Linked DNA regions of Homo sapiens. The protein of the gene in region 3 interacts with the protein of the main gene of each other region in a pairwise test. Each region holds a gene or a part of one and is shown on either strand. Other genes may lie near its edges. The genes, in order: LIMS1, KATNBL1, RAD51D and CCNL1.

Region 1 (7,049 bases), on a different chromosome or scaffold from region 3:
ATTGTATAAGATTTGTTTTTCTTGTTTTTGTTTTTCTTGGGTGGTTATTTTTCTTTTCTGTGTCCTTCCCCAACAGCAGTTGGAATTTTCTTTTGAACACAAAGTAAATTAATGTTTATACTGTTTTTTCACCTGAGTCATGTAAAAGGTGACTCCTTTCATTTTAAAAAGTTATATTTAATTTTTGGGGGCCTTAATTAAAATTTAACATTTAACCATGTGTTTTTTTTTTGTAAACAGTCTACATGTCAACAAATGGATAAGGGTTAACAAAGGCAAATACTGACTTCATTTGTGTTTTAAACACGATTATATGAATTTTTCTTTTTTAATTAAAAAAATGACATAAAACCATTCATATAGGTCCTCTTCTCTCAACTGCTTTGAGATATAGCTTTAAATATGGGTAGATCAAGACAAGTAATGTTGGTAATCTCTTATCTTGCATAGAAAAGAAAAAATAAAGGAACTTATTTCCTTCCTAAGGTCTCAGCTAGTTTCTTAAGTCTTTTCTTCAGCTCCAATGGAAATTTCTCATAGCACTTCTTACAGACTGGCTTCATGTCAAACTCCACAAACTTATTCCTAAAGACAAAAAATTATAAAAAAAAAGAAGTTAGTGGAAACATATTCAACAAAGATATATAAATGATGTGCAGTAATTGTACTGAACTAAACGAAGGCAACTAGGTGATGATATTATATTCATGTTAGTAAAAAAACCATAATCCTAACCTCAATTCTTATTGTGATATATATATAAAAATTCAGTATAATTTTAAAAAAAAGTCCTTATAAATTGGTTCTATACATCCATCTGTGTAACACAGACTGTAGATTACATTTTATTCAGTACTAAGTAAACAGGAAATCTAATGTAAATATAATTAACTTAAGTACAGTCAATCACTTTTTTTTTTTTTTTTTTTTGGAAACAGAGCCTCGACTGTCACTCAGGCTGGAGTGCAGTGGTGATCACAGCTCCCTGCAGCCTCTAACTCCTGGACTCAAGCCATCCTCCCACCTCAGCCTCCTGAATAGCTGGGACACAAGTGCATACTACTATGCCTGGCTAACTTAAAAATTTTTTTTTGTAGAGACAGGGTCCTGTCGTATTGCCTAGGATGGTAATCACATTTTAGAATACCTTAAAGATAAATTTATCTAAAGGAAAGAATCATATTTTTATAATGTGAATGATTTCTTTATTGGAGGCAACATGATCTTACTTAGTACTTTAAATTAGGTAGCCATGAGGTTTAATTAATTTTAAATTATAAGGGGTTATTTTGGTTATCTGACAGAAAGGTTGGAAGAAAGTTTTTAATCACTCTTAACATAAATGTAACCAGATCACCTGTGGTTGCATTGTAAGCGGTAGCTATTTGAAGAACTCAACTATTCTTTTGAAAAGCTAGAGCAACACACATTATCAATTTATTTTTAAAATGGTCCTGGAGAAGACAACTTTTCAGATAGCCTCCTGATCATCTGTAATGCATTTCCAACAGGTAATTACAGGAGCTTATTACTGTTGAAATCCAGAGTGTTTAATTTTGAATTGAGTAAATATACAACTTGGTAACTTGTTCACTGTCTGTGAAATTATATTCAGGTAGCATTTGTGAAATAAATCTAGTGGTATATTGCTATCTATGACAAAAATTATAAAATCTGCTGATATTTTTACTGCATTTAAACATTATATTAAACTAGACTTTGCTTCAAGATCATTTTAAAGGACAATGTTAGTAACAAAGGAAATTCCTAAACACATATCTAAAATGAAAAATCTTCTATTTTAAAACACTACACTGGGAATTACTTTACGGCTTTTCTCCCAAGGTCATCTTAGAGCAAAAGCTATTAAAACTGCCATTTTTTTGATAAAAGAAAAAAATTATTCCTGTTTTCAGACAGACTACCTTAGCAAGCTTTCCAGTTTTAATCTTTTTTATTTTTTATTTTTTGAGACAGAGTCTCACTCTGTCGCCCAGGGTGGAATGCAGTGGCACGATCTCGGCTCACTGCAACCTCCGCCTCTCAGGTTCAAGCGATTCTCCTGTCTCAGCCTCGCGAGTATCTGGGATTACAGGCACCCGCCACCATGCCTGGCTAATTTTTTTGTATTTTTAGTAGAGACGGGGCTTCACCATGTTGCCCAGGCTGATCTCAAGTGATCTGCTGCCTTGGCATCTCAAAGTGCTGGGATCACAGGCGTGAGCCACCATGCCCGGCCTCATTGTTTTAATCTTACATTTACATTTAATTCCTCTTTATAGAAGGAAACATGTAAACTGGAACAAAATATTTTTAGAGCTCCAAACACAATGGTAACTATGAGGGAAAACTGGAACAATCATGCTGGTAATTCAAAAGAATTTCAAAGATTGAAATACTTCTCATAAAAATCAGGAATAAAAAAAGAGTTTGAAGACATTGAGGAAATGAATTCATAAACAGTAGCATATGGGTATTGTATGAATGCACATTCGAACATCACAGAAGAAGATGTCTTACGTAAATCAGATGGACTTTGCTTAGATACGAAACATGCTGAAAGATTTTTTTTTTTTTTTGAGACAGAGTCTCACTCTGTCGCCCAAGCTGGAGTGCAGTGGCAGTCATGGCTCACTGCAGCAGCCTCAGCCTCCTGAGTAGCTGGGACTATAGGTATGGGCCACCACGCCTGGCTAATTTGTTTTTTTTTTTTGACGGATGGGGTCTAGGCATGTAGTCCAGGCTGGTCTCAAAATCCTGGGCTCAGGCAATCCTTCCACTCTGCCTTCCTAAAGTGCTGGGATTACAGGCGTGAGCCACCATGCCTCGCCATGCTGAAATAATTTAATACATAACTTAGAATATATGCATTTTTAAAAATATCAAACAACACTTATAATTTATCAATTAAATGATCGTGGCAAGGAAACCAAAAACCAGGATTTTAAAAGCTACAGTTAATCAGACAAAAATCCTTTAAAATGTTTTCCAGGGTCTATTAAGAGATTAGAATTCTTCCCTTTAAATCCATTAAAAAAAAAAGAAAGAAATGTATACTATATGGTGTTTAAAAAATGAGGTGAGTGAGTCTACAGAGTAAGTGAAATACATGACCACAAAACTGTATTAAGTATGGAGTGTATTCATTTAATTTTTGTAATTTTAGCAGTTATGCAAAAGGACCAGTTCTACATAGGACAAATACTTGTATTTCAATCTCTGATGACTACAAATACATGCCCAAAAGTTGCAGGGGGGGAAGAAAGCAAAAGACAGAAACAGAACAAAAACATATTCCAAAGGACTAACCAAAGGAGAAAGCAGTGAAAATGATGACACAGGGATAGAAAAGTTTACAAACAGACTGGCTTTTTCTTTTTCTGCTTGTCCTTATCCTTTGCTTCTCTCTCCCGTTTGGCAAGTCGCCTCTTAAATTCTTCTGGCATTTTCTCATAACAGTGTTTGCAGACTGGCTTTAGGTCAATTTCAACAAACTTATCCCTTTGAGTAGGACAAAGAAGGAATAGAAGAAAGAACAGGGAACAGTTAAAGGAAGAACCTTTACTTTCAGAAGGCCTGAACAGAAAGAGGAAATAAGAAATCAAATAATTCTCTTTTTCTAAATTCTAGGATTTTTTTTAAGTGTCTCCCCAAAGTTTTCAGTCTTAGGATTCACACTGGACAAAACCGTACACTTACTTGAGTGTTAATTTAGTGTTGCAGGTAGAACAGGCAAAGCAGTTCACGCACCAGGCCTTATTAAGAGCAGAGACCACTGGAGAAAGAGGAAAGAGATCTGGTCACATGGAAATACATCAGTATGGGGAGCAGGGCAGCTTAGAATTTCAACTCCAAAACAGAACTACGACTGTGTCTGTGGCACTTGGTGGAGGTTCTCAAGAACCTTTTTTTTTTTTTTTTTTTTTTTTAAATGAGACAGGGTCTTGCTCTATAGCCCAGGCTGGAGTACAGTGGCACAATCTTGGCTCACTGTAACCCCAACCTCCCAGGCTCAAGTGATCCTCCCACCTCAGCCTCCTGAGTAGCTGGGACTACAGGTGCATGCCACTACACCTGGCTAATTTTTTTTTTTTTTTTTTTTTTGAGACGGAATCTCGCTCTGTTGCCAGGCTGGAGTGCAGTGGCGCAATCACGGCTCACTGCAACCTCCGCCTCCTGGGTTCAAGCGATTCTCCTGCCTCATTTTCCCAAGTAGCTGGGACTACAGGTGCGTGCCACCATGCCCAGCTAATTTTTGTATTTAATAGAGACGGGATTTCACCATGTTGGCCAAGATGGTCTCAATCTCTTGACCTTGTGATCCGCCCGTCTTGGCCTCCCAGAGTGCTGGGATTACAAGCGTGAGCCACTGCGCCCGGCCTATACCTGTCTAATTTTTGTATTTTTTATAGAGACACGGTCTTGCCATGTTTCCCAGGACGGTCTTGAACTCCTGGGCTCAAGCAATCTACCTGCCTCGGTCTCCCAAAATGCTGAGATTATAGGCATGAGCCACCATGCCCAGCCAAGAACCTCTTTCCTGAGAGCTTCTTTTCTTTTGTTTTTCAGACAGGGTCTCGCTCTGTTGTCCAGGCTGTATTGCAGTGGTGCGATCACAGCTCGAACTCCTGGGCTCAAGCAATCTTCTCCTCTCGTTCTCCTGTGTAGCTGGGACCATAGGTGTGTGCTACCACACCTGGCTAATTTTTTATTTTGTAGAGATGGAGGTCTTGCTCTGTTGCCCAGGCTGGTATCGAACTCCTGGCCTCAAGAAATTCTCCTGTCTCGGCCTCCTTAAGTGCTGGGATTACAGGTATAAGCCACCACACCCGGCCCTCAACCTTTATGTATACAGTTGTTGCTCAGTATGTGCAGGATACTGTTTCTAGGATGCTGTGAGGATACCAAAATCTCAGACGCTCAAGTCCCTGATATAAAATGCATATAACCTATGTACATTGTCTTGTATACATTTATTTATTTTTTTTGAGACGAAGTTTTTGCTCTTGTTGCCCAGGCTGGAGTGCAATGGTGTGATCTTGGCTCACAGCAACCTCTGCCTCCCGGGTTCAGGTGATTCTCCTGTCTCAGCCTCCCGAGTAGCTGGGATCATAGGCATGCACCACCACACCCAGCTAAGTTTTTGTATTTTTAGTAGAGATGGGGTTTCACCATGTTGGCCAGACTGCTCTTGAACTCTTGACCTCAGTTGATCTGCCCGCCTTGGCCTCCCAAAGTGTTGGGATCACAGGCGTGAGCCACTGAGCCTGGTCCTATCTCGTATACTTTAGATCATCTCTAGGTTAATTATAATGCCTAGTACAATGTAAATGATATGTAAATAGTCATTATACTGTACTATTTGTACTGTTATATTGTTATTTTTCTCTAAATATTTTTGATCCATAGTTGGTTGAATCCACGGATGTTTGGATCCAGCCCCTGGATACGGAGGGCTGACTTTAATCTTCCCCCATCCTTAAGTATCCTGTGAAGTTATAAATGATGTGTGCCATGTCTTACACCAGCAACTGTGCCCCCTTGGCCTGGGCACATGTGGCAACTGTCCATGCACCATGTTGTTTAGGTGAGCTTGCTGTTTCTGTCCCTACTGCTGTTGGCCCAACATGGAAATATGAACTAGGTAAATAATTTTCAAAAATCCAGACATTAACTTATTTGCCCCTGTAGGAGTCTTTTTTCCAGAGCTGATGATAAGAAGACAGTTTCCTTTGCAGCTTCTTTCACCTGGCATCTATTTCACAGAGGAGGGAGGTAAGTTTTATTTTCAATGGCACTAAAGATTGTTTTCCTGGATTGTTTTCACAAACTGCACATGAACAGTGTTTCAAAAGTATTTCCTGAATTAGGTGATGTCTGCAGGGAGCCATGAATCATGCTGAAAACAGGATTGTTCAAAACTTTGCCAGGAAGTCTCTGGCAGAAGTGTGTTAGCGAGTCTTAGCAAACACAGCTGCTTCCTTTCTGTTCCAATCAATCAGCCCAGCCTAATTACCACAGTACAAGGGTGGTAAGTCCTAGATATGCTTGCTGATAACTGCCAGCTTTTAGCATGTGCAGGTTAAAGTGCCTCTTCCTAACTACGATAGCAGATTAAACTGTTCCTAATAAACGTTGTTCTAGAGCTTCCTGAAACTGGACACAAACAGGTCTTAGGGTCCACCAGGGACAGTTCCCATGATTGCTGGCATACAACACTGCAGCAGTGGCCGAAAGTAGTGTCATAAATCAGTAACAAATCCAACTCTTTGATATTATCATCTTACTGCTACAGATTACTTGGAAAATACGCCAAAGATAGAGAAAAAGTAACTGATAACGATCACATTTCAAACCATACAATCACCAACCTGAATTTCCACATTACCCAAGTGTTTTTGTGTCAAAGTGGCACCAATCTAAAACTCACACAGATACTTACCATCACCTTCTATAACACGATTGCAGTGGAAGCAAACATCACCAAATAGCTGAAAATAAAAAAAGGTGGTCAAAGTTCAAGATGTGTTAGAATTTTTAGAACACTGAACATTTAAAAATAGCTGGCTATCTAAATTGAGGATTTATCACTACTAGAGAAATTTAGTAAAAGTTCTTTGACAAGTTTTTACTTCTTACAATGAAAGTAATTCACTCTCATCAATTAAAAGAAAAACTTTCCAGATGACAGTTTGAACACCCAAATAAGTGATGCAAAATATAGAAATCTGTGAGTCCATATGGATAAGAAATAGATAAATGAATAAACCTATAGACGGGAGAGGAGGTGGGTTCTTGCTCAGGCAGAGCGCTGAGGACCAGACTATGGGTGGAGGGCATGGGGCTGGAGAAGTGTCGTTTGCAGCTGGCGCAGAGACAAGAATCATCAAGGGGTGCTGAATCTAGGGCAGGTTGATGAGGAACAGGACATTTCCATGGTCATAAAATGATTGCCCACAGATTGCTTCTTTCTTACAGAGGAGGGAAGGAAATTGTAATTCACAGTGATGTTATCAGCCAGCACCATGCCTGGGAGATCACCAGGGCAG
Region 2 (3,972 bases), on a different chromosome or scaffold from region 3:
TTCAAAAAACCTAAATTTAGGTATAAATGTTACCAAGATAATACCTGTTCTTACTATATGTCATTTGTACTTAATTTTTCTGAAGTCTGATTTATTGAAGTTTGATTTTTGAAGATACTGTTTAGTCAATGATCTGACCCAGAGAAAAATGTGAAAAATATCTGATGTAATATTACTTAATACTTTGAAACTAAACATTACACAGTATTTTAGATATCTTATTTTGAATCTATTATTTTAAATGTTAGATTAAAAGTCTACAGTATCACATATACCCATTGAGTAATCTTTCCATTTGAGGCGAAAGGTTTATGCTAAGCTATACATACCATCTTCCTGAATTTCTGAGATGGATACCTGACGGAAGGTGCAATCGACAGCTATAAAAACATTTTGTGTGTATGTAAAGTTAATGAACCTACAAAAGCATCAAACTCCTGTCCACGGCCTCTTTAGCACCATACTCCAACCAAGTTAACTGGTTCAAACTGCTACATAAGACAGTGATAACTACAGGAATAAGCACAAAGAAAGGTTATATTTTATCATGTTAAAAGTTTCACAGAGATAACAGGTTTACAATTCAAATTCCCATGTCCTGAAAACTGGCCTCTTAAATAACTCACCTCTCAAATCACAGACGTGCAATAATCTGAAATTATTATAATCTAAAGACTTAAGGAAATAACCAATTATTACAATTCATGTTCACTGTGAGGAATATCTAGCTATATAAAATATAGCTACACAAAACCAGAACTCAGTGAAACATAACTTTTAAGAGCAAGAAATCTGCTTGAGATTCGTATCAGTAGTCATTAAACGAATAAATGCTAAAGGTTTACATTCAAGTGCTTGAAGGACTACTGCAGAGAAATTCAATTACTAAAAACCTTTGCTCAGATGCCTGTCAGGCATATTAAGGATGGGATGATGTGTGAACCACCAGCAGTGGTATTAAACCCCAATCATTTTCAAGACAAGTAAGATTTAGAGCTGTTAAGACATTCCAGAATTTGGTTCACTGACACTAAAAGTGGTATTTTAAAAAAAGACCTCATACAGTCTGCTAGCATATCATACTAACCATTAGAGGAGGTAGTGACACAAAGTGTTGGAATTTAAAATACAAGATCAGCATTAACTGTAAACCATTCTAAATCACTGTATGTAACTCTTTAAAACATATGTAGTGAAAAAGAATTAGAATTCATATAAAATCAGAATTTAAAAAAGCAAAAAATAGAAATATTTAGTGAATTTACTCAAATGAAGGAAGTTTAAATGATACAGGAATGAAAAATATTAGAAATCTATGTACAATAAAAAGTAAATATAAATTAGCCAAGTCCATGGACATTTCCAGTTAAACATTCATACAAAAACATATTCACCTTTTTCCTTAGATAGGGATAACACATTCATACATGACATGATGATTCTGGCAAAAAATATCAGAGATACTAAAACTATTCTCAAGTTTTAAAAATGGTGCAGAGAGTGTTTCAAGAACACTCTACAAGAATGTAAACCCCTGATTTAATTCCATGATTTTATCATGCCAGAAGCATGGTTGGTTTTAGTTTTTTAAAACAGATATTGGTATCATAACACATTGGCTTATTAATAATTAAGGCATTTTACATACACAGTATCTCAGTGTGAACAAAAAATGTTTAATATTGATTTTTTTCATGTTTTAAACTTTCAGTCTTTTCAACATAAGAAAATAGCTGCACACATTTAAGTGTTTTTTTTTTTTAATAAAACACAATCTTAAAAAAGTTAATGATGATTGGTCTTGGTGGTTCCTAGTGGTAAGTCCTGTCTTATTTTTTCACATAGTATAAATTATATTTTTATGCAGGATTGCATTAAAATCCAGTAGTTCTTAATGTTACCAAATAACCATATAACTCCCAAATGCAGCAAAGGTGAACAATCTTCATAGTGCACTTTCACCTCAATGAAATTGAAGCTGCTCCTTTTGGATATTTTTCCACTTCAATGTGAAGCAGATTGCTGGGATTTCATTAGTGGTTTCATTACGTGGCTTTTTAAAAGAAAAAATAGTTTTGATTTCTTCCACAGTTCACAGTTCTCAGACGAGACTTTTTTTTTTTGTAAATTATACAGTTCAGGGATGTTTTGAAAAACCAAATGCTCTTTAGTAGATGAAATCTCTCAATGTAACTGTAATAAATAAGCATCTACATCCTTAGAAGATAAAACAAAAACATTTCATTAGACAGTACAGTAAATACAAACATAAACAATCCATTTTTTTTTGTTGTTGCTTAATTTGCCTTAGTTTCCTTTTGTGACCTTTTGAGGGTAAAAGACGTGCCTTGTTCAGTGCTTTTATCTGCATTTGTTCAGCACAGGGCCTGGCACATAGTATGTGCTCAATATATATTTGCTAAGTGCTAAATGAATGTGTTGGTTCCTATGCTCAAACAACTCTGCTTTCATAGCTAACATTCACAGAAATTCTATCAGTGCTGTTTACTATCAGTGCTATATTCACTTGAGCCCAGCTTGACAATAGCCTCTTTCAATTTCTTTCTCTTTTTTTTGAGACAGAGTCTTGCTCTGTCACCAGGCTGAAGTGCAGTGGCGTGATCTTGGCTCTCTGCAACCTCCACCTCCAGGGTTCAAGTGATTCTCCAGCCTCAGCCTCCCAAGTAGCTGGGACTACAGGTGTGCACCACCACGCCCGGCTAATTTTTTGTGTTTTAGTAGAGATGGGGTTTCACCATGTTGGCCGGGATGGTCTCGATCTCCTGAGCTCGTGATCTGCCCACCTTGGCCTCCCAAAGTACTGGGATTACAGGCATGAGCCACCTTGCCCGGCCCTCTTCTTTCAATTTCTATACTCAAAAAATTACAAATTAATTGATGGTTTAATTTTGTAAGAAAGTCTCATCATAAGGAACTTCGCATTGAACTTTTAATCACTCAATATTGTCCCCAATAATAAATGGTACCTTAAAGTCATATTCACAATAAAGCTTTTCCCTTTGTAAAAAACTGATTGTGGCCGGGTGTGGTGGCTCCCGCCTGTAATCCCATTACTTTGGGAGGGGGAGGTGGGTGGGTCACTTGAGGTCAGGAGTTCGAAACCAGCCTGGCCAACGTGGTGAAATCCCGTCTCCACTAAAAATACAAAAATTAGCCAGGCATGTGTGTAATCCCAGCTACTCGGGAGGCTGAGGCAGGAGAATCACTTGAACCCAGGAGGCAGAGGTTGCAGTGAGCTGAGCTTGTGCCACTGCACTCCAGCCTGGACGACAGAGCGAGATTCAGTCTCAAAACAAAAACAACAAAAAAAATTCTGATTGAAAGCAAATTTCAGTCATAAGGAACAATCATTTTTTAGTTCTTCTATACAGAATGCAACAACCCTTTAGAGCAAGGTAATACGTCATGTATGCTCTAAAAACCTAAAACAACAACAAAAACTTTCTAGGAGATTGATATGTTCATAAGATTTTCATCATTAAGAATTCTATAGGCCAGGCGCAGTGGCTCACGCCTGTAATCCCAGCACTTTGGGAGGCCAAGGCAGGTGGATCATGAGGTCAAGAGATCAAGACCATCCTGGCTAACATGGTGAAACCCTGTCTCTACTAAAAATACAAAAAAAAAAAAAAAAAAAAAAAAATTGCCAGGCATGGTGGTGGGCGCCTGTAGTCCCAGCTAATCGGGAGGCTGAGGCAGGAGAATGGCGTGAACCTGGGAGGTGGAGCTTGTAGTGAGCCGAGATTGCGCCACCACACTCCAGCCTGGGCGACAGAGCGAGATTCCATCTCAAAAAAAAAAAAAAAAAAAAAAGAATTCTATAGAGTAAAATCCCACACAGTGGTAACAAACTTGGTTGATATATCATTTTGCTTCTTTTTTTTGAAGGTATCTGAGAAATTTTTTTTTTTGGGAGAGGGGCCATGGTCTTCCATAGCAATGGCCAGAGCT
Region 3 (7,049 bases):
CCTTAACAAACTGCAGCCTTAGTATGCAAACTAACTGAAAACCTAATTTAGGAGTATACTTTTGTAACAGATTGCTGAGGCTCAGCCAATCACATCATCAGCTTCAGTGGGTTCCAGGCAGCCAACTATTCAAACCATTTTCAAATAAGGCAAAGGCAGAGCTGTAACCAATTAGTTGTCTTTGTATCTCATTTCTGTTTTCTGACCATAAATGCTTTCAGACTATGTTGCAGCTCTGGAATTCTCTGAACCTGTCCTGGTTCTGAGGGCAGCCCAATTCTAGAATTGCAAATAAAAGTCAATTACAATCTGCAAAACTATATTTGCTTTAATTTTGTCTTTTAACACCTTGTTTTCTTAATTTTTATTATTTTATTTTATAGAGATAGGGTCTTGCTATGTTGCCCAGGCTGGTCTGGAACTCCTGGCCTCAGGCGATCCTCCTACTTTGGCTTCCCAAATTACTGGGATTACAGTCAGGAGCCACAGTTCCTGGCATGTTAACACCTTGTTCTTTAAAGGACACACAGGAGGCGATCCTTCTCCTGCCTGTAGATATTGTCACGTCTGGATTGATGCTCAAAATGGCTGCAGCCAGGCTTTCATAAGGGGAACAAGCTTGAAGACAAAACCAACATAAAAGAACAGAGCAGAAGGATGCAAAGGCTCTACGCCATTTGACAATGAGCCACTAAATTAACAAACCTCAGACTTCCTGTTATCAGAGATAATAAGTGTCCCTGCCAGGCATGGTGGCTCATGACTGTAATCCCTAGCACTTTGGGAGGTCAAGGCGGGTAGATCACCTGAGCCCAGGAGTTCAAGACCAGCCTGGGCAACGTACAGAGACCCCGTCTCTACAAAAAATACAAAACTTAGATGGGTGTGGTGGCACACACCTGTAGTCCCAGCTACTTGGGAGACTGAAGTGGGAGGATCACTTGAGCTTGGGAGGTAGAGGGTACAGTGAGCCGTGATTGTGCCACTGCACTCCAGAGCAAGACTCTGTCTTGAAACATAAAAGAAATAAATATAAATAAGTGTCCCTAGTATTTACACTTCTTTAAGCCTAGGTTTTGTTACTTGCAGCCTTAATGATACATGGACCTTTGCCTGAGTCCTTGGGAATTCAAATGCCTGATTTTTAATTAAGGCCATCAAGTGCTAGCACATAGTAGGATCTCAACATTAATTTCATCTGATGTCAGACGAAGGGCATACAATAGTCCCCTGTAAAAAGATATGTAAGAAGACACTCTGGGGACTCAATGATGTGGGTGTGAACATATATATATATTTTTTAGATGGAGTCTCACTCTGTTGCCCAGGCTAGAGTACAGTGGCACAATCTCGGCTCACTGCAACCTCCATCTCCCAGGTTCAAGCGATTCTCATGCCTCAGCCTCCCAAGTAGCTGGGATTACAGATGCGAGCCATCACACCCAGCTAATTTTTGTATTTTTAGTAGAGACAGGGTTTCACTATATAGGCCAGGCTGGTCTTGAACTCCTGACCTTGTGATCCGCCCACTTTGGCCTCCCAAAGTGCTGGGATTACAGGCGTGAGCCACTGCGCCTGGCTCATATGTGTATATATATGTGTGTATATATATGTGTGTATATATATATATGTGTGTATATATATGTATATATATGTGTGTATATGTGTGTGTGTGTGTGTGTATATATATATATATATGTATATGTATATGTATATTTTTTTCCTAAGAACTAGAGAGTGCCCTCAGGTCTCAAACCACCCCCGCAGGGGAAATTGAAAGTTGACGCTTTATGGAAGGAACCCCTGAGATAGAGCCAGTCCTTTGCTTTTTTAAAATATATTTTTAAAACATCATTCATCTATTTAATCATTACTGAGCTTCCATAATGTATAAAGAGAAAAAGTGACAAAAAGTGGGAGCCTGTAGGCAGACACGTGAACAGAAAGTACAAGTGAATAACTAATACAGGGAAGTTACTGTAAGCATCTATCTAGATCACAGCTGAGGCATAAAAAAGGATGTCAGGGTGGGTGTGCACCAGACACAGTGGGAGCTGGGCAGAGACAGACACATAAGCAAAGGGAGCAAAAGGCACTTGGACAGGAGAGCCAGCCTAGCCCAAGTCCTACCAGGGGACTGCACAGTGTGGTGTGGCCGGAACAGAGTGCAGTGGCAGCAGGCAGGCAAGACAAAGTCCTGGTCTAGGAGGAGCCAAAGGATGAAGCTGGCTGTGAGGGGCACAGCCTGCAGGAATGTCACGTGGTGGTCTCAAGTAGCAGTGAATGCAACACCTTCCCATGGCCACAGAAACTCCTTGGGTGACAGCTGTGGTGCCTTCAGCTGGAGTTACAGCCCTAGCAGGAATAGAACTGTATGGACTGAAAATTAAATAAAATGTGGGGATTTTTTTTTTCTTTTTGAAACAGAGTCTCTGTTGCCCAGGCTGGAGTGCAGTGGCATGATCGCAGGTCATTGCAACCTCTGCCTCCTGGGCTCAAGTGATCCTCCCCACTCAGCCTCTCGAGGAGCTGGGATTACAGACATGCGCCACGACGCCTGGCTAATTTTTGCATTTTTTTTTTTTTTTTGAGACGGAGTCTCACTCTGTCGCTCAGGCTGGAGTGCAGTGGCGCCATCTCAGCTCCCTGCAACCTCCGCCTCCCAGGTTCAAGCGATTCTGCCTCAGCCTCCTGAGTAGCTGGGATTACAGGAAATGGGCCACCATGCCTGGCTAATTTTTGTATTTTTAGTACAGACGGGGTTTCACCATGTTGGTCAGGCTGGTCTGGAACTCCTGACCTTAGGTGATCCACCCACCTCAGCCTCCCAAAGTGCTGGGATTACAGGCGTGAGCCACCACACCCAGCCAATGTGGGAATTAAAAAAAAAAGAGTCCTAGGAATCAAGTTGTGGGTTCCAGATCCCACCTCCATTCTGCCACTAGGACTGTCAGTCATCCTTTTTGAGCCTCAGGTACCTTCTCTGTTAAGTAACAGGATGGGCCAGATGATTTTTTTTTTCCTTGAGACAGGGTCTTGCTCTGTTACCCAGGCTGGGGTGTAGTGGTGCGATCAGGGCTCACTGCAGCCACAACCTCCAAGGTTCAAGCGATTCTCCTGCCTCAGGCTCCCAAGTAGCAGGGACCACAGGTGCACATCACAATGCCTAGCTAATTTAAAAAATTTTTTTGTAGAAACGATGTCTCATCATGTTGCCCAGGCTGATTTTAAACTGTTAAACTCCTGGGCTCAAGTGATCCTCCCGCCTCAGGCTCCCAAAGTGCTACCATTATAGGTGTGAGCCACTGTGCCTGGCCCCAGATGATCTCAAACTGCAGTCCTAGGGTCCTCAGTTAGGTATTAAGTACCTGAACTCACTACATAATGGGAACAGGGCAGAGACGGCAACCAGACTCCACCTTGAATACCAACTCCAACTGACTGGTAGTGGCCCCCTGGAGTGCTATATTGAGAAAAACTTCTAAAAACACTTTGACTTCCACAAAAAAGAGTGCTTGTGCCCGATTGGTCATGTCTGCTGTGGGCTGAAGATGCCCAAATAGTACCTTGAGTGGCAAGAATTTGCAATTTCCAGCTTCATGTATTGCATCTTACTGTGGTTGCAGGAATGTGCCAATCACCCATGGTATAAAGATACTGAAGATTAATTTCTCCTGAGGTCTTCTGTGAAAGCAAGCGCTAGGATTCCCCCAGGCTTAGGCTTACCAACCCTGTCCTGAATCCAACACCCTGGTGCCAGTTTGCCACTCCTTCCCAATCCTCCATGATTCTATCCCTGTTGCATTCATCACCTCTAAATGTCATTACTTTCTGAGTGTAACTCGGACCCTCCTTTCCTGCAGCCAAGACATAACTGATTAATTACACAACAGGCTCTCTAACCAAGAAAGATGACCTTCCTTTAAAAGATGTGGCCAGTAACCAATCCTGATCATTTCTGTACTTTTCCTTTTATTTTCCATTCCCTGGTGTCTTCGTCCCCTCCCAGCCAGGGTCATGGCTCTCAGACGGATGGCCACAGTGCTGGTGAAAGACAGAGGGATTATTTCATACACTAGGGCACTAGCTGTGGTACAGCTGGCAGGAAGAGAGGTGTAATTATATTGCATCTTGGAGCCACCAGCAATGAATTTCTGCATAAAGGACTAGATTTGCCATGTATTATTTACGTCAGCATCAATTTTCCCAGCTGGCTCTATTTACTGTGCAAATTCTCCTCTGTCTGTTTATGGGCAAGGCCATGGTTCAGCACCTCTGGTTATGCTGTACTGTGGAGGGGCCCCACAGGGCACCATGCATATTAAATGAGTGGCTGGATTCACCAGGAGCAGGTCATACCCTCCCTTTCTGTTAAATTATATCCCTGGAACTGCAGCGAGCCCACACGTTCTCACCTAGTCATGGTGATGCAGGCAGGTCTGAAACCAAATCAGCAAGAGGAAAGGAGGAATAAACTGTTCTTTGGGCCTCACTGGGGGAAACTGAAAAACAGCCTTCTAAGGGGAAATCAGGTGGCTCTAGGGCTCGGGGAATTGCCTTTTTATATTTTTAAGAGCAAAACAGAGATGAAGAAGAGTATTTCATTTATAAGCTTATTTCCACCCAGTAACTCAGAGACAGAGCTAAGGAAGAGTGGGCCCCCATCTAACAAATGGAAAGGCAGAGACAAAAGAAAAAAAAGGCAGCAGCAGCAAAGGCAAGTTAGAGGCTTTCCCGGCTTGGCCACTGCGCTAGGAGGGAGCACAGGACACAATGGTGATGCACAGGATTATCCATCCAGTCGCCAGCATGCCTCATCAGAGATGCTCCCAGCCAGGGTGAACTTGGTTTCCACCAGAAACATACACGTTAGAAATAAGGGAAGGAAACGTGGCACCAGTATGAATTTCTGGGTCCTCGCAATGCAGCATCCTCTTTCGCCTGTGGTTTATATGCTTACAGAGAGTGAGGCCAAGGAACCCAAGATGTCTCTTCTGGCCAGCCTGAGAACGTCTGTAGTCACCAGTGCCAGGTGGCAGTAAACAGCAGGCGTTACTGGGAAGAAAAGTTGGGAGGGGTCCCCAATGCTTCCCTGTTTCCCAAACAACAGCACAGGTCATGTCTGATCACCCTGTAATGTGGCACTCTGCTCTGAGGTCCCCCAGGTCCCAATGTCTACCATCTCCTGGAAACCTGTTGGCTGGAAGAAGAAGTAAGGAGTCAGTGGAGTTAAGCAACCCAAGTGGGTAGCTTCTTTAGTTGCAAGGTTTCAGCCTCTAAAGAGTTCTTCTCGAAGACATCTGTGGGTATGGAAACCACCCTCCAGGGCCCAAGATTACTGGCATCTTCCTGGGGCTGGCTCACCTGTCGGGAAGATTTGGCCAGACACGCCATGCGCCGGCCGCCTGATGCTCCTGCTCCCTCGATGGTGTCCAGGAGAATCCGAGTGCTGGGCACAAAGCTCCAGGAGCGTCCGAGGGCAGGTTTGAGCCTCCCGCTGTCCCTGTCTCGAGTTATGTGGTTGGTCACCTGCAGCAGAAACAGACTTACAGATCCATAATGCTAGTATAGAGGACATCGATTACTACCGCTTCATTTTACGGAGAGGAAAACAGAGGCCTAGCACAGAGAAATAACTTCCCCAAGGTTACAAAACCTAATGGCAGGTCTGGAACTAGAACCTGGGCCTCCTGACTTGTGCCCCGCTCTTTCCACTAAATCTCGATGCCTCAGGTTTGACCCGAACCAGAAGGCGATGGGGCACATGTCACCATGCTTTCCAGGCTGGTCTCAAACTCTTGAGCTCATGCAGTCCGCCAGCCTCAGCCTCCCAAAGTGCTGGGATTACAAGTGTGGGCCACCACGCCCAGACACTCAGCCTTTAAAAGGAAGGAAAGTCTGACACATGCTACAAGGTGGATGAACCTTCTGGACATTATGCTAAGTGAAATACTCCAGTCACAAAAAGTAAATACCATATGATTCCATGTATATGAGGTTCCTAGAGTAGTCAAAAAGCATAGATACAGAAAGTAGAATGGTGGTTGTCAGGGGCTGGGGAAGGGGAAAATGAGTTATTTTTAATGGGTACAGAGTTTCAGTTTTACAAGGTGAAGAGTTATAGAGATGGATGGTGGTGATGGTTGTACAGCGTTATGAATGTATTTAACACCACCGAACTGTATACCTTAAAGTGGTTAAGATAGTAAATTTTATGTTACATGTATTTTACCACAATAAAAGAAACTGGAAAAAATATATAGCTGCTAAAAATTACATTTCTAAAAAATCTATTTTAAAACATAGGAAATGGACTCAGATGGTATTTTTTATGTTGTTGTTTTGGTTTGTTTGTTTTTGAGATGAGGTTTTGCTCTGTTGCCCAGGCTGGAGTGCAGTGGCATGATCACAGCTCACTGCAGCCTCGATCTCCCAGGCTCAAGCAATTCTCCTGCCACCAAGGCCACCTAGTTTTTGTATTTTTTGTAGAGGTGGGGTTTTGCCATGTTGCCCAGGCTAGTCTCGAACTCCTGGGCTCAAGTGATCCACCAGCCTTGGCTTCTCAAAGTGCTGGGATTACACGCATAAACCAGCGCACCTGGCCTATTTTTTTTTATTTTTTCATGAGGTTAGTTTAGTTAGAAAGCTGGTTAAGTGTGGGCTCACACCTGTAATACCAACACTTTGGGAGGCTGAGGCGGGTGGATTGCTTGAGCCTGGAAGGTCGAGCTGCAGTGAGCTGTGATTGTGCCCCTGCACTCCAGCCTGGGAAACAGAGCGAAACCCTATCTCAAAAGAAAAAAAAAAGAAAGAAAGAAAGTTGGCTAAAAGTATAAGTAAATATGCAGAAAAAGTATTGTATGGAGATATGTAAAAATATTAATATGGTTTCTGTGGATGTGGAGATTGATGACAAATTTGAATCATATTTATTTTCTATCCTTTCTATGAGAAGCATGCAGACTTTAAAAAAACTACCTCATAAGCAGAAAAAGTTACTTCAATAGCAAAAAGATCCATTTATATGAAGCTCTGGAAAAGGCCAAACT
Region 4 (3,144 bases), on a different chromosome or scaffold from region 3:
TAACTTTATTTTTAAAAATATCCTTAGCAGTAATACATCTTCCTCTTTGTGGGTGTATTTTATTTCTTGAAACAGCAACAAATCACTTGGAGCCAAGTCTAGTGGACAATTAAAGTAGGTAAAATAAATGTAATGGAGACCTTAGTGTAATTATAAAGCGATGCAACATTTTGACTCTGTAAACTGATTTCCAAAATGTTGAAAAAAATAGTAAATGTGAGTAACTTGAAAACATTCATCTGGATAGAAATTCCGGCTTTTTCATCAAAACTTCACTTCTTTGTGATCAGCTTGTATTCTATCAACCACTCAAGTTCAGGGGCCTCACATTTTCTCCTAGCCTACGTAAAAATCGTAACATTAAATGCCTAAATTATACAGAACTGTTAAAGCTCAATAGTTACTAAGTTTTGGTTCATTCAATAGGGTACCTCATTTCAGAAATAGTACTTAAATCTGACTCAAAATTACCTTATGACACCATTCAAAAGCAAATCAGGTTTTTTGGTTTAGTGCTAAAATATAACATTTAATGTCACATTGTTGGGCGACTCCCATTTACTTTTTCCATATATACAGTGAAGACTTACAATAGCTCACAATGCAGTTAAGAATTGCATTTTAATAATCTCAAACTACCATCTAATGGAGGAAAGAATAAGTTTGTCAGAAAACCAGTACAGCCATTTTGCTATTAAAATTTTCCTTTTTAATAATTTATTTAAATAAGGTATTTGAAGCAGTTTAGAAAAAACAAGATTTGTATTTTATTTCCTTGTAAAAATCTTTACACATGCAGACAAACCAGTGTTAAGAAAGTATTCACCATCATTTAAACAAATAACCACTTAAATAGAACAGTGTCTGCAATTTTATCTGTATAAAAATAAGATACATTTTTACAGAATTCACGCTCCAGTTCTTATAGCAATAAACAATACACAACTATAATAAAGTACAATTGAACCTGACCATGGTTTTTAATTAGATACTGCTAGGGCATTTTAATGTGCAAAAAAATTAACATAGTTCTTTTCAAAAGAAACTGTCCTCAGTGTTCTAGAGACCTAGAGGGTTTCAAGAAATCAAATCCTAATCAGTTTGCGTTTAATGTTTTTGATTGAGTCCATACATCACACTGTAGATAGGCAAAACCAAGAACTGATGCAGGCTCAAAGGAAGAGAAAGTCAGCGCCTGTGCCTGCCATGTCCTGAGCGACTGCCACCATGGTGCTTGCTTTTATGGGACCTCTCAAAGGAGCGAGATCGTTCACGCCTGTCCCTATGATGTCCCCTTTCATGCCTGTGTTTCTTGGCTGCATCTGAGTGATCCCGAGACTTGCTCTGAGATCGAGAACGAGATTTTTTCCTTTTATGACCATGTCTGTTTGAACTTTTTAAATCATCTCTGGTATGCTTGGCCTTAAGGTGAGGAGAACCATGATTATGATGTCTTCGAGGGCTTTCACTGTGACTGCGGGACCTGCTTCTTGATCTCGAGCTGTATGTTCCAGATCGACTCCGCCTATTATTATAGCTTAGATAATAAAAATTTGAAGTTTAGGTTCAGTTTCTATGGGGAACAGATTATTCCGGTGGTTGCTCATAACAGGTTCAAAACAAAACTACCAGCTACATAAATGACAAACCAGAACTTTTCAAAATCTCCCCACCCCTCACTGCTGTATGCCCAAGCCTATATATAACATATTAAATCTTAAGCAAATGTTCTTATGTCTTTATTCCAAGGGGAGTAATTAGCAATTTTTATAGTGTCCTAGAGCTATGCTTTTTATTAAGTATCTCCCACATGTTCAAAAGACATTGAAGAGCCACGAAGAGCTAACAATCTAATTACAGGCCTAACTAAAGAAGATTCATTGACTGGTTAATTTGATTATTGGTTATTAATAAGGGGTTAATGAAACACATTTTCTAACTGAAATTAAAAAAAAAAAAAGAAGTTTTCACATTATGAACAATACTATGGCCCTCAAGCACTTTGTGGGTAGCTCCTACACTTCTCCAAAAAACATGGGAGAAAATATAACAGAATGCCATTAAGATACTGTATGTCCAGAACATCTCCAAACTCATTTCTCATAATTTGCCTCATACTAAAAGCCTAATTCTAACCTAACTTTGAAAATAATCTATGTTCAATTTTTAAAGAAAAAGCAATAACCTTTAAAAACTCCAAATAAGACTGCTTCCCTAAGAAAACATTTACTTACTGTCTTCTTGGAGTATGTGATCTAGAACGTGATCGTGTTCTTGACCTCGATCGACTTGCACTTCTGCTATTTCTACTTCTCTTGCTGTCTTTTCTTACACTTCAAAAAATCATGACATATTAGTTACAAACTTAGTGTGTTAAAAAGTAAACACATAAAAGATTCCTCAAGCCAGTTTTCCAGCCCAAGTATACTCACCCATTGTAAGGGCTTTTGGAAGCCTGTTGTCTATCCTCAGGTTCTTTTTTGACTGTCTTCACATTAATGGAGATTGGTGATTTCTCTTCAGCTTTTACTTCTCTTGGTGATGCTTTTAAAAGATATAATAACAACATGTTAACTACTGGATTTAACAGAGGGCCAAAAGTTGTTTCTAAATGTAACTCAAAGTACCATGCTTCCGCTTCCATGTTGGTTGACTGCCATGAGAGAACATAGCAGCAGTTTCCTAACATCATTTTTCTCTATGCAACTTTCAAATGTAAAAGCTCTCTAATAAAGACACACTTTCAGTGCCCCCAAGTCATTTTAATTCTAAATACATCTTACATGGCTTGGAGGCTGGAGAAAATCCACCCAGGGTTGAAAGGGCTGGAGTTCCATCCGGATTCAATCCCTTTGCTTTTAATTTGGCTTCTTGTAAGGCTACTTTTCTTTTTTCTACTTCTTTTTCCAGTAATTCATAGTTTGGCTGTTGGAGGAAAAAAAAGTTAGTATTTCTTCCTTAGAGTAGCTTGGACTCTTAGCATGTTGGCACAAACGAGTAAATAGAGAATACCTTTTTTCTGGTATAAAGCCTAAGTGTTTCTATGCAGATTTCCTGGATTTCCTCTTCTGTAGTACCAAAAAGAAGAAACCAATGGGGACGAGTTGGCAACGGAATCTAAACCATAAGAACAGAATGTTTTAA

What was found.
Region 1: the proteins of RAD51D (region 3) and LIMS1 interact in binary tests that used the Homo sapiens proteins (3 or more experiments, as listed by UniProt).
Region 2: the proteins of RAD51D (region 3) and KATNBL1 interact in binary tests that used the Homo sapiens proteins (3 or more experiments, as listed by UniProt).
Region 4: the proteins of RAD51D (region 3) and CCNL1 interact in binary tests that used the Homo sapiens proteins (3 or more experiments, as listed by UniProt).

The regions. Positions count from the first base shown.
Region 1 is NC_000002.12:108,677,421-108,684,469, reverse strand, and holds part of LIMS1 (LIM and senescent cell antigen-like-containing domain protein 1), read right to left. Parts: exon of another isoform or gene 6,979-7,049; intron 6,492-6,978; coding exon 6,443-6,491; intron 6,032-6,442; exon of another isoform or gene 5,869-6,031; intron 3,776-5,868; coding exon 3,700-3,775; intron 3,502-3,699; coding exon of another isoform or gene 3,354-3,501; exon of another isoform or gene 3,310-3,353; intron 586-3,309; coding exon 471-585; 3' UTR 1-470. UniProt on the Homo sapiens protein: Within the IPP (ILK-PINCH-PARVIN) complex, binds to F-actin, promoting F-actin bundling, a process required to generate force for actin cytoskeleton reorganization and subsequent dynamic cell adhesion events such as cell spreading and migration.
Region 2 is NC_000015.10:34,140,155-34,144,126, forward strand, and holds the end of KATNBL1 (KATNB1-like protein 1), read right to left. Parts: intron 2,218-3,972; coding exon 2,185-2,217; 3' UTR 520-2,184; downstream 1-519.
Region 3 is NC_000017.11:35,095,837-35,102,885, forward strand, and holds part of RAD51D (DNA repair protein RAD51 homolog 4), read right to left. Parts: intron 5,530-7,049; coding exon 5,365-5,529; intron 5,201-5,364; coding exon 5,117-5,200; 3' UTR 1-5,116. UniProt on the Homo sapiens protein: Involved in the homologous recombination repair (HRR) pathway of double-stranded DNA breaks arising during DNA replication or induced by DNA-damaging agents. Bind to single-stranded DNA (ssDNA) and has DNA-dependent ATPase activity.
Region 4 is NC_000003.12:157,147,053-157,150,196, forward strand, and holds the end of CCNL1 (cyclin-L1), read right to left. Parts: intron 3,118-3,144; coding exon 3,013-3,117; intron 2,926-3,012; coding exon 2,784-2,925; intron 2,545-2,783; coding exon 2,433-2,544; intron 2,334-2,432; coding exon 2,235-2,333; intron 1,538-2,234; coding exon 1,189-1,537; 3' UTR 501-1,188; downstream 1-500. UniProt on the Homo sapiens protein: Involved in pre-mRNA splicing. Functions in association with cyclin-dependent kinases (CDKs). Inhibited by the CDK-specific inhibitor CDKN1A/p21. May play a role in the regulation of RNA polymerase II (pol II).